Linked DNA regions of Homo sapiens. The protein of the gene in region 1 purifies or fractionates together with the protein of each later gene. This does not show direct contact. Each region holds a gene or a part of one and is shown in the gene's direction. Other genes may lie near its edges. The genes, in order: PEX7, VBP1 and TXNDC9.

The links.
Region 2: the proteins of PEX7 (region 1) and VBP1 purify together in Homo sapiens (affinity purification with mass spectrometry; 3 studies listed by BioGRID and IntAct, with this or other methods). This does not show direct contact.
Region 3: the proteins of PEX7 (region 1) and TXNDC9 purify together in Homo sapiens (affinity purification with mass spectrometry; 3 studies listed by BioGRID and IntAct, with this or other methods). This does not show direct contact.

Annotation. Positions count from the first base shown.
Region 1 is NC_000006.12:136,829,072-136,832,727, forward strand, and holds part of PEX7 (peroxisomal biogenesis factor 7), read left to right. Parts: intron 1-3,656. UniProt on the Homo sapiens protein: Receptor required for the peroxisomal import of proteins containing a C-terminal PTS2-type peroxisomal targeting signal. Specifically binds to cargo proteins containing a PTS2 peroxisomal targeting signal in the cytosol.
Region 2 is NC_000023.11:155,236,858-155,240,454, forward strand, and holds the end of VBP1 (prefoldin subunit 3), read left to right. Parts: intron 1-1,914; coding exon 1,915-1,985; 3' UTR 1,986-2,984; downstream 2,985-3,597. UniProt on the Homo sapiens protein: Binds specifically to cytosolic chaperonin (c-CPN) and transfers target proteins to it. Binds to nascent polypeptide chain and promotes folding in an environment in which there are many competing pathways for nonnative proteins.
Region 3 is NC_000002.12:99,319,283-99,322,938, reverse strand, and holds part of TXNDC9 (thioredoxin domain-containing protein 9), read left to right. Parts: intron 1-729; coding exon 730-984; intron 985-1,155; exon of another isoform or gene 1,156-1,813; intron 1,814-3,139; coding exon 3,140-3,257; 3' UTR 3,258-3,656. UniProt on the Homo sapiens protein: Significantly diminishes the chaperonin TCP1 complex ATPase activity, thus negatively impacts protein folding, including that of actin or tubulin.

The DNA of each region.
Region 1 (3,656 bases):
AAATGGCTTCAACAGTCAGAGTTTACTGTTTCACATATTTTGCTTGGTTATGTGAAAAATAAATGAAGATAACCTTTTTAGGTATTTGTTACAGCAGCACCCCTAATTCTTGGCACCAGTTTCTGCCTCAGTCTGTTCAGGCTGCTGTAACAAAGTATTATAGACTGGGTGCCTTATAAAGAACAGAAATTTATTTCTTACTATTCTGGAGGTTGGAAGTCCAAGGTCAGGGTGCCCACATGTTTGGGTTCTGATGAGGGCCCTCTTTTAGGTCAAAGACTACTGCTGTCTTTTCATTGTATCTGCAGGTGGTGGAAAGAGAATGAGAGAGGTTTGGGAAATCCCTTTTATAAGAGCACTAATCCCATTCATGAGGGCTCTACATTCATGACCTAATTACCCCCCAGAGGCCCTACGTCCTAAAACCATTACACTGGGGGGTTAAGATTTCAACATGTGGGTTTTGTGGGGATATATTCAGTCCATTGCATATGCCAGATACTCAAAAATACTTAAAAGGATTTAAGCTCAAATGAGAGTTTTAAGGAGCTAGTAAATATTTGTTGAATAAATTAATAAATGAGGCTGAGTGCAGTGAGTCATGCCTGTAATCCTAACACTTTGGAAGGTCGAGGTGGGCAGATCACTGAAGGCCAGGAGTTTGGGACCAGCCTGGCCAACATGGCGAAAACCCCGCCTCTACTAAAAATAAAAAAATTAGCTGGGTGTGGTGGTGCACACCTGTAGTCCCAGCTATTTGGTGGCTGAGGCACAAGAATCATTTGAGCATGGGAGGTGGAGGTTGCAGTGAGCTGAGTTCGTGCCATTGCACTCCAGCCTGGACAACAGAGTGAGACCCTGTCTTAAAAGAAAGTTATTAAAAAAAAAAGTTGATAATGAACATAGCCAATTTCTGTTTTTTTTTTTTCCACCAGTATGTTCAGGGAAGCTGTGTTGTGAAATAGAAGAGCAACTAATGGGTCATTTTCTTCTGTGGAAGAGAGTATATAATAAAGACGTATAGCATGGTTTTAGTCAATCTTGGATTTGAATCCCAGCTTTGTAAGTTACCTGTTGTGAGACCTTGCGTATGTCACATATTTTTCCTAAACTTGAGTGTTTTTATTTGCAAACTAAGTTTATTAGTAGTCTGTATCACAGACCAGCATTGAATAAATATGAGCTAGTATTATTATTTGCTCTTATTATAATAGGGTTTGAAAAATGTAAAACAAGTTAGAACTTTTCCAGTTACCCACTTTACCACTTGATGGCTATGTGTCCAACAGTCAATTTTCAAGTTGTCAGATGAAGCAAAAAAGAGAAATCCAAGATTTAGATATATTTTAGGCTTTGAGGAGTGAAGGTCTTGGTGAAATGAAAAGAAAGAAAAACATGGACATTATCTGTGTGAATGGTTGCTAAACCTAGCATCGAAGTAGGAATCAAATTCTTCTGTCTATTGTTTAACTGGTGTCTGCAGAGGTCATTATGTCTTTTGAGTCCCATAAAATGCCTTTGGCTTTGCTTATTCTAATGCTGCTGAATATATAATAAAAATTTTTAAAAGTTCAGTGAGAATAGAAAAATAAGAGTGAATTGACAATTTTATTTCACTGCTTTCTGACTTAAAACACTGTGCTACTGAGAGTGAGTTAAAGTGACTTTAAAGATGACATAAATCAATGTAATATATTAATTTCTAATTTTCAGACTAATGAGTTGGCTTATCACAATTTAAAAATGAGTTAAAATTTGTTCTCATAGTCAAATAACAAGGTTTATCAATTTGCTGAATTTTTATAACATATTTGATCCATTGAGGTTTTTGAGCATTGCTTATAAAAACTTATTTTTGACCTAAGTATACAACTATTAGTATTCTGTTATGGAGGAAATGTATTTGCTTATACATTTCAAGAGTTAAAATCTTGTTTACTTTAAAAAATGAATCAATTATTTACTTTTTGATAATGATAGAAGCTGAGAAGTCAATAATGATAGGTATTGTATTAGTCTGTTTTCACATTGTTATAAAGAAATACCTGAGAGTGGGTAATTTATAAAGGAAAGAGGTTTAATTGACTCACAGTTCCACATGACTGGGGAGGCCTCAGGAAACTTAAAATTATGGCAGAAGGTGAAGGGGAAGTAGATAACCTTCTTCACAAGGCAGCAGGAGAGAGAGAAAGAGAGAGAGAGAAAGCAGGGGAAACTGCCACTTTTAAAGCCATCAGATCTTTTGAGAACTCCCTCACTATCACAAGAACAGCATGGGGGAAACTGCCCCCATGATCCGATCACTTCCTACCGGGTTCCTCCCTGGACACATGGGGATTACAATTCAAGATGAGATTTGGGTGGGGATATAAAGCCAAACCATATCATTCCACTCCTGGCGCCTCCCAAATTTCATGTCTTTTTCACATTTCAAAACCAATCATGACTTTCCAACAGTCCCCCAAAGTCTTAACTTATTCCAGCATTAACCCAAAAGTCCAAGTCCAAAGTCTCATCTGAGACAAGGCAAGTCCCTTTTGCCTATGAGCCTATAAAATAAAAAACAAGTTAGTTACTTCTAAGATACAGTAGGGCTATAGGCATTAGCTAAATGTTTCAAATGGGAGAAATTGGCCAAAACAAAGGGGCCACAGGCCCCATGCAAGTCTGAAACCCAGCAGTGCAGTTACTAAATCTTAAAGCTCTGAAATGATCTCCTTTGACTCCATATCTCACATCCAAGGGGTAGGCTCCCATGGCCTTGGGCAGCTCTACCCTTGTAGCTCTGAAAGGTGCAGTCCTTATGGCTGCTTTCACTGGCTGGCATTGAGTGCCTGTGGCTTTTCCAGCTGTACAATACAAGCTGTCAGTGAATCTACCTTTCTGGGGCCTGGGGGACAGTGGCTCTCTCCTCACAACTCCAGTAGGCAGTGCCCCAGTGGGGACTGTGTGGGGCCTTCAACCCCACATTTTCCTTCTGTACTGCCCTAGCAAAGGTTCTCCATGAGGGCTCCTCCCTTGCAGCAGACTTCTGCCTGGACATTCAGGTGTTTCCATACATCCTCTGAAATTTAGGTGGAGGTTAAACTCTTGTCTTCTAAACTCTTCTTGTCTTCTGTGTACCCACAGACCCAACACCACATGGAAGCTGCCAAGGTTTAGGGCTTGCACCCTCAGAAGCAATGGCTTGAGCTGTACCTTGGCTCCTTTTAGCCATGGCTGGAGCTAGAGCAGCTGGATGCAGGGCACCATGTCTTGAGGCTGCACAGAGCAGCAGGGCCACTCAGGCCCACAAAACCATTTTTCCCTCCTAGGCCGCTGGGCCTGTGATGGGAGGGGCTTCTGCAAATGTCTCTGACATGCCTTGGATACATTTTTCCCATTGTTTTGGCTATTAATATTTGGCTCCTTGTTACTTATACAAATTTCTGCAGCAGGTTTGAATTTCCCCCCAAGAAATAGGTTTTTCTTTTCTACCTCATGGTTAGGTTGCAAATTTTCTGAACTTTTATGCTGTGCTTCCCTTTTAAATATAAGTTCCAAATTCAAATAATCTCTTCATGAATGCATGTGACTATACACTTTTAGAAACAACCGGGTCACTTCTTGAATGCTTTGGTGCTTAGAAATCTCTTTCACCAGACACTCTAAATCAT
Region 2 (3,597 bases), on another chromosome or scaffold:
AAGGGTCTCCTATGTTCCTGCAACTGTGCTAAGACATATGGGGCATGAAAATCAATTTTAGAAAAGAGTGGCAGTGCCTTTCTCTGGTAGAACTGTACATGTAAAACAGCTGAATGATAATTCATAGCAAACTATAAGTAAGTTAACATATGCAACACCAAGGCAATTTAAACTTTGGGAAAGATAGATGTAGGCTGGACTTAGTTCAAAGAAGGCTTTGTTGAGAAGATAAAAGTTAGGCTGCTTTTTTAAAGGCGGCGTAGGGTTTAAAGATCAGCAGAGAGAAGAGGTGGGAGTGGGGTATTCTGGTCAAGGGGGAAGGCAAGCTCTTTGCCTTTCTTCTCTGGCCTGTCTTTTCCTCCTACTTCCTGTCACAGTCACTCAAGACAAAATCACGGGAGTCACCTTTCACACTTCTCTCTTCCTCACTACCAATAATAAATCAGTCGCCAGATTCACATCAAATTTCCCTCATAAATCTCTCTGCCCATTACTGTTCTCGTTCTGGGGCTCCAAAACCTGCACTCAGAACCTTTTTAGGTTCCTCTCATTCCATCTGTCCTTCCCACTATCTCTAGTATGAATTTACTAGGTCACTCATTTTTATTCCTCTGGTTACAATATTTCAACGGTTCCTTGTTACTTACAAGATATACATATAGGCACTCTTGTGAAGTGCCCCCAGCTTGTCTCACCTCATGCCACTGACCTCTTCTTGCCTTTCCCCAGTGCATTCCAGGTTCCAGATAACCCCAGTCAGTTATTGTACACACTCCCCAATTGTGCCACACCCTTTGCATTTCTACACTTTGTTCCTCCTAACTGGAATGACTTTCCCATATTTACAGGATGTGCTCTTTTTTTACCCTTTTACCCTAAATATCTCAGTCCAAGCATCAGAGCTTTCCTGAACATTTTCTGATCCTCAGAGTGTTTCTTGTGTGCTTGCTTAACACATACTGCTTAGTTTTACCTTGCCAAACCGTGAGCTCTTCAGATGTAGGAGCTGCACTTTCTCTTCTTTTCCAGTGTGCAGCATGTGGCAGTTGTTTATGGTTGGCTGAGGGAAGGCAGGCCTGTTGGGGCCTAGTGCAGTGGTCATCATCATCTGACGGGTAGTGTGGAAACTTCATCCAGCTATGAGATGACGAGGGCCTAGGACGGGTGGCTTGTGGAAAGGAAAAGATATTAAACGTGTGAGAAAAAAACAGGATCCAGTGACTTAGATGGGTACAGGAGCCAAAAGTGAGGAAATCCTCTAAGATGAGTCCTACAAGCTTAGTTAAATGCCATTTGTTATTGCTAGTACTGCAAAAGGTAGGAAAGGAAGGTGTGCAGACAAGTGAGGGAGCTAGGGTGGACAGTCTCTGTTACATTGACATTCTACTGGAGTCTAAGCTCCACGAGGAAAAGAACTTCACCTGTCTTATTCAGGTCAGGGCTTTGTACAGTGCCTAGTCAAAAATACAGTAGATGCTTAATAAACTTGTTAAGCCAAAGGGAGGGTAAGAGATAAAATTATTGATAATTGTAATAATATAAATATTACATGGCAGGATATGGGTTGAGTGATCTTTCAGATTTCTTGGATGAGGGACTGTCTTTAAAACTATCGAGAGTGTCTAGTACATATTTGTTAAATATATCATAGTTGACTAGCTGACAGTTGACTAATACCATAGTAAACAATGGGTTAACAATTAATTTGAGTCCTTAGTTTTGATAGAGTTTAATTATAGTATTTTCCTAACAATTGACATTATAGCAGGATGTCTTACAATACTATTTGTTACCAGTATTTGTATATGTTTCATTTCTGTGTCTTTGATTCATTGTGTGAGTGGAGTGAATACTTAGTCATTGCATGCATTATCTTTAGAATTGCATTTGCATTTTCTTTGACAATTCTTGCAGATATGGCCAGGGTTTATAATTGGGATGTAAAAAGAAGAAACAAGGATGACTCTACCAAGAACAAAGCATAATGCTGGCAATTAAAAATGTGGTTTAGTTTTCCAAACATGTTATCTTAAATACCCCTTTATCCTTACAGGTTGACATAACTTTGAATGTTTTAACAGCAAGAATTTTAAGAAAAGATAAACACCATTTTATTTATTTATAAAAACAAAATTAGTTTCAAATATTTTTGACATTGTGATTTTTTTTTCCACATTTCTCAGCAAAGCTAATGGTATTTTAATCATTATTTTTGCCTGTCATAAGAAAACTCTTAGCTGAAATGGCCGAAAACTGTGAGACATGCTATGGAAGCTGAATGCCGGACGCTAGCACAGTTTACTTTTTCCCTTTCTAATTGGCTGATGTTACTCTCACTTGATGTGGTTAAACCATTTTAGAGGTAGAGAAGACAGACAGTTTGAATATTTGTAAACTTGTTTTTCTTTGGTATATTTAGGACTTAGTGGTCCTCTGTTGCTATTGTCTTCTATAAGTGGAGTTTCATGACTTACTGCTTAACGAATAACTAACTACTATGATATTCTGGACATTTTAGGAAATGGTAATTTGCCTTGCTACACATTAAGAGGGCTATTAAGACTACATTTTTTCTAACCTCAGATAAGTGCAGTGTCTTTGCAATGCCAACATAAGGGAGATCTTGGCCAACGTGAAATAAAATTACTCATTCAAAACTCTGCCTAAGGTGATTTTGTAGTTCTTAACAGTTCTCCAGAGCATCTTGAACAGGAATATTAAGATAAATGTGAATCTGCAATGGCTGAAAAGAGTTGTGAGCTTTTTTATTCATGATAAAACCTTATAGGAATAGTATAAAAAATCCCTGTGGAAAGCTACTAGTACATTGACCAGCGCTGGGTGATACAGATTCTGATAAAAACATAAATGTATTAGTTCATCTCCATGTAGTAAAAAGTATACTTATACAATGTTTTGTACTTGTATTTCATGAAATTAAAACAGTGATGCTAAAACTATGGCAGAGCACTTTTTTCATGTTACTCTTTGTCTTACTATGTTTGGGCTGCTATAACAGAATACCACAGAGTGGGGGGCTTATAAACAGCAGAAATTTATCTCTCCCAGTTCTGGAGGCTGGGAAGTCCAAGATCAAGGTGCTGGCAGATTTGGTGTCTGGTAAGGGCTGTGTCCTGGTTCGTAAACGGCACCTTTTCACTGTGCCCTCATGTGGCAGAAGGGGCAAGGAGCTCCCTTGGGCCTCTTTAATTTGGCACTAATCTCATCATGAGGGCTCTGCCCTTATGACCTACTCACCTCCCAAAAGCCCCACCTCCTAATACCATCACCTTGGGGGTTAAGATTTTAACATAACAATTTTGGGGTGACACAAAGATTCAGACAATAACACCTTTTTAAAGTTAACATGGGTCTTTTCACGTATTTGTAAAGTTTACTTGTACATATACTAGCATGTTCCAAGAACAACTTATATTTCTAGAAACACCATAAAATCCCTGTGGAAGGAATACAGATCTGCAAACAATTGAGAAGTTCATTGAAAAGATAACAGAATTTCCTTGATTGAATTTTTCTTTCATAATTTTAAATTCTCATATTTTAGAATTTGAGGTTTGTAAACATCTTGAGATATTG
Region 3 (3,656 bases), on another chromosome or scaffold:
ATACAAAAAATTAGCCGGGCATGGTGGCAGGCGCCTGTAGTCCCAGCTACTTGGGAGGCTGAGGCAGGAGAATGGCATGAACCAGGGAGGCGGAGCTTGCAGTGAGCCGAGCTTGTGCCACTGCACTCCAGCCTGGGGGACAGGGCAATACGCCACCTCCAAAAAAATAAAAAATAAAAAAGTTACTACTGGTATTTTTTAATTTCCTAGAAGCATAATGGCCACATTTATTTAAATATTATTAGTAACCCTTAGCCTTAATGTGCTTCTTACTGACAGCGTTGCATATTTAGGAGTAAGAAGTTTTTCCTCGGTAATGCTGTTCAGTTTTTCTTCATGACTTCCAAATATGGCACCATGTGTGCACTTCTGATTCTTGTAAGTCTCTTCCGAGTTTTGTCAAGTTTCAGTTTGTTCCTCTTCAAGTTTCCTGTGTAGGAGATAGGACAACTTCCTTTATGACTTAAAGCATATATTTAATATTTTAAAAGAGAATATCATTAATGCAAATCTGACTTTCTAGAATCTTATAGGCTGTTTTCCCATCTCGTAATCAGGCAGCTAACCTCTGATCTGGAAGTGAGGTCATCTGACACAAGTTTAAGTTGGCTGCCATGTTATGAGAGTCAACAGAAAAACTACATAATTAGATTTCCCTTGATGATATTTATTTTGAAAAAAGCGATCTGTGGTTTTAGCTTATAATTTTCTATGTGTGGTCACTTACAGGTGTAAAATACTAGACAGACATCTGGCAATATTGTCCAAGAAACACCTCGAGACCAAATTTTTGAAGCTGAATGTGGAAAAAGCACCTTTCCTTTGTGAGAGACTGCATATCAAAGTCATTCCCACACTAGCACTGCTAAAAGATGGGAAAACACAAGATTATGTTGTTGGGTTTACTGACCTAGGAAATACAGATGACTTCACCACAGAAACTTTAGAATGGAGGCTCGGTTCTTCTGACATTCTTAATTACAGGTAACTTTTAACAAAAGAAGAGATTGATTTTAATTCATATATAGTTGATATTTTTACAAAAGATTTTTGTATTGTAACATTTATTTTATGAAATTAAGGCATTTTGGCTGAGATGTGGAAAGTTTCTCAAAGGAAAAGCATGTTTTTTTGAAGTGTGTAATATTAGCGTGATTTTACGGCAAAATCAGATTTACAGATTAAACTGATTTAATAGGTAAAACTGAGTCTCACCGTACTCCTGACTATAAAAGTTTTCAGCTTAACGTATACTATTGACACTAATTTTGTATTAATCTGGAAACTTAAAATGGCAATCCAGTGTTGACTATTCCCCAATTTAAGCCAGATTGCTCAAATGAATTCTGACTTAAGTGATTCTCTTTGATAAAATAAAAATTAAAAGCAGACTCTTGCAAAGAAAGTTATATTTTAAAATACTAGATTTTTAACATGGATATTTCTGTTTTACTTATAGAGGCTGATGAATAGAAAAAGGTTTCTATGCCTAGCTTACATTGCTTGCTATGAAGAACAGTTTTAGTTTGAAAACAATCTAAAATCCAACTTCCATTTCTTTGTCCACTTCTTCAGACAAATAATTTATCTAATTCCACAAATCAGAGCATATCATCTTGTCTTTTTTGCCTTTTCTTGATTTGCAAAAGTAACAGGTAAAATTGTGCACTTACCATTCCAGAGTCATGGTGCCTTTCAGGAAGTAGAAGGTTCTCTCACGTTTTTCTTTCTCCCCCATTTCCCTCCCGTCTTTTCTCTGACTCTCCTAGACATGCCGAAATCATTCCTATGTTGTAGAAATTGGTTTCATTTCCTTAATATTAACATAAAATATTAATATTTATTAAATAAAGTTATATATTTTGAAGTAATTTTAAGCCTTAAACAAATTGCAGCCGGGTGGGGCACTTGTGTAATCTCAGAAGATTACAGACTTTGAGAGGCTGAGGTGGGAGAATCAGTTGAGGCCAGGAGTTTGAGACCAATTTGGGCAACATATAGTGAGATGAGACCTCGTCTCTACAAAAAACTAGTAGAAACAACCCCCTGCAGACTAGTACAACGAATCCTCATTGACCCTTTGCCCATATTACCCAATTTTAAACATTTTATATTTGTTTTATCATTGTCTTTATAGATACTATGAAGTATTTTGGGAACCATTTGAGTGGAAATTGTGAATACAGTGTCCCTTTACTCCTAAAGACTTCCATATATATTTTCTAAGAACAAGAACATTTTCTTACGTAGCGACAGTACAATTATTGAAACAGGAATTATTGTGTAATTTACCGCTCTTATTTCAAGTTTTCTCATTGTCCCAATAATTGTCCTTCATACCAAAAATGCAGCACATTTAGTTATTACGTCTTTAGTTACCATTGTTATTCTTTGGTTCTTAAGACTGATGTTTTTGAAGAGTACAAACTGTTTATTTTGGAGAACATCTCCCAGTTTGGGTTTGTCTTAAATTTCCTCAAGATTAGATTCAGATTATCGATTTTTGACGGGCATATTATGGAAGTGATGCATCATATCGGGAGGTGTGTGATGGTTTCTCTCATTTCCGGTGACAACTGAGCACTGTGTTAACCAAATGTTAATCCATAATTAATGATAAAAAGGAAAATAGGTCTGGTGCAGTGGCTCATACCTATAATCCCAGCACTTTGGGATGCCAAAGCAGGAGGATTGCTTGAGCCTAAGAGTTCAAGACAAGCCTGGGCAATGTAGTGAGATGTCATCACTACAAAAAATGTAAAAATTAACTGAGCATGGTGGCACACGCCTGTAGTCCAAGCTACTCGGGAGGCTGAGGTGGGAGGATCGCTTGAGCCCAGGAACTGGAGGTTGCAGTGAGCTGTGATCACACCACTGCACATCAGCCTGGGCCACAGAGTGAGACCCTGTCTCAAAAAGAAAGGAAAATAAAATTGATCTAAAACATTCAGTAGGACACAATAAGGTTTAAGGCTATTAACCATCAATATCAATATAAGCATTATACCTCTTCCCTGACACCAGCATTTTAAAGAAATTTTATTCTATGTTACAGGAAGAAAACAAAGATAGATTTTTGTGCAGTTTAGTATACTAGTACTAAATCATAAAGAATAAAATGCTTTTTTTTTTTTTTAAGTGGAAATTTAATGGAGCCACCATTTCAGAACCAAAAGAAATTTGGAACAAACTTCACAAAGCTGGAAAAGAAAACTATCCGAGGAAAGAAATATGATTCAGACTCTGATGATGATTAGAGCTCAATAATTCTTTGTAAATTGTCTTTTTTTTTCTGCTTCAGATTTAAATGTGTTTTTAAAATTCTATTAATGTCTATACATTGGTCACCTAAATACTCATATTCTCGAGTTTTATACAGTTGTATCACATCGAAAAGTGTCTTTACTGTTTTCTGTGTGGCCATCATGTTTAAGTTGAGGAAAACTCAGTTCTTAAATTATCTGGGAAGGGTCTGGATTCTCTATTTTTGAGATTGACTTTATCACAATATGATTCTTACATCTTTATACCATTTACAATTGTGTTTTAGATCTACAGAGTTAGAAATTCGAAAACTATTCCAGGACTAATTCTTAATCGGCATTATTTATACAAGAGGTCAAGTAACATTTACTAGCGCAATACTGCACTTGTAA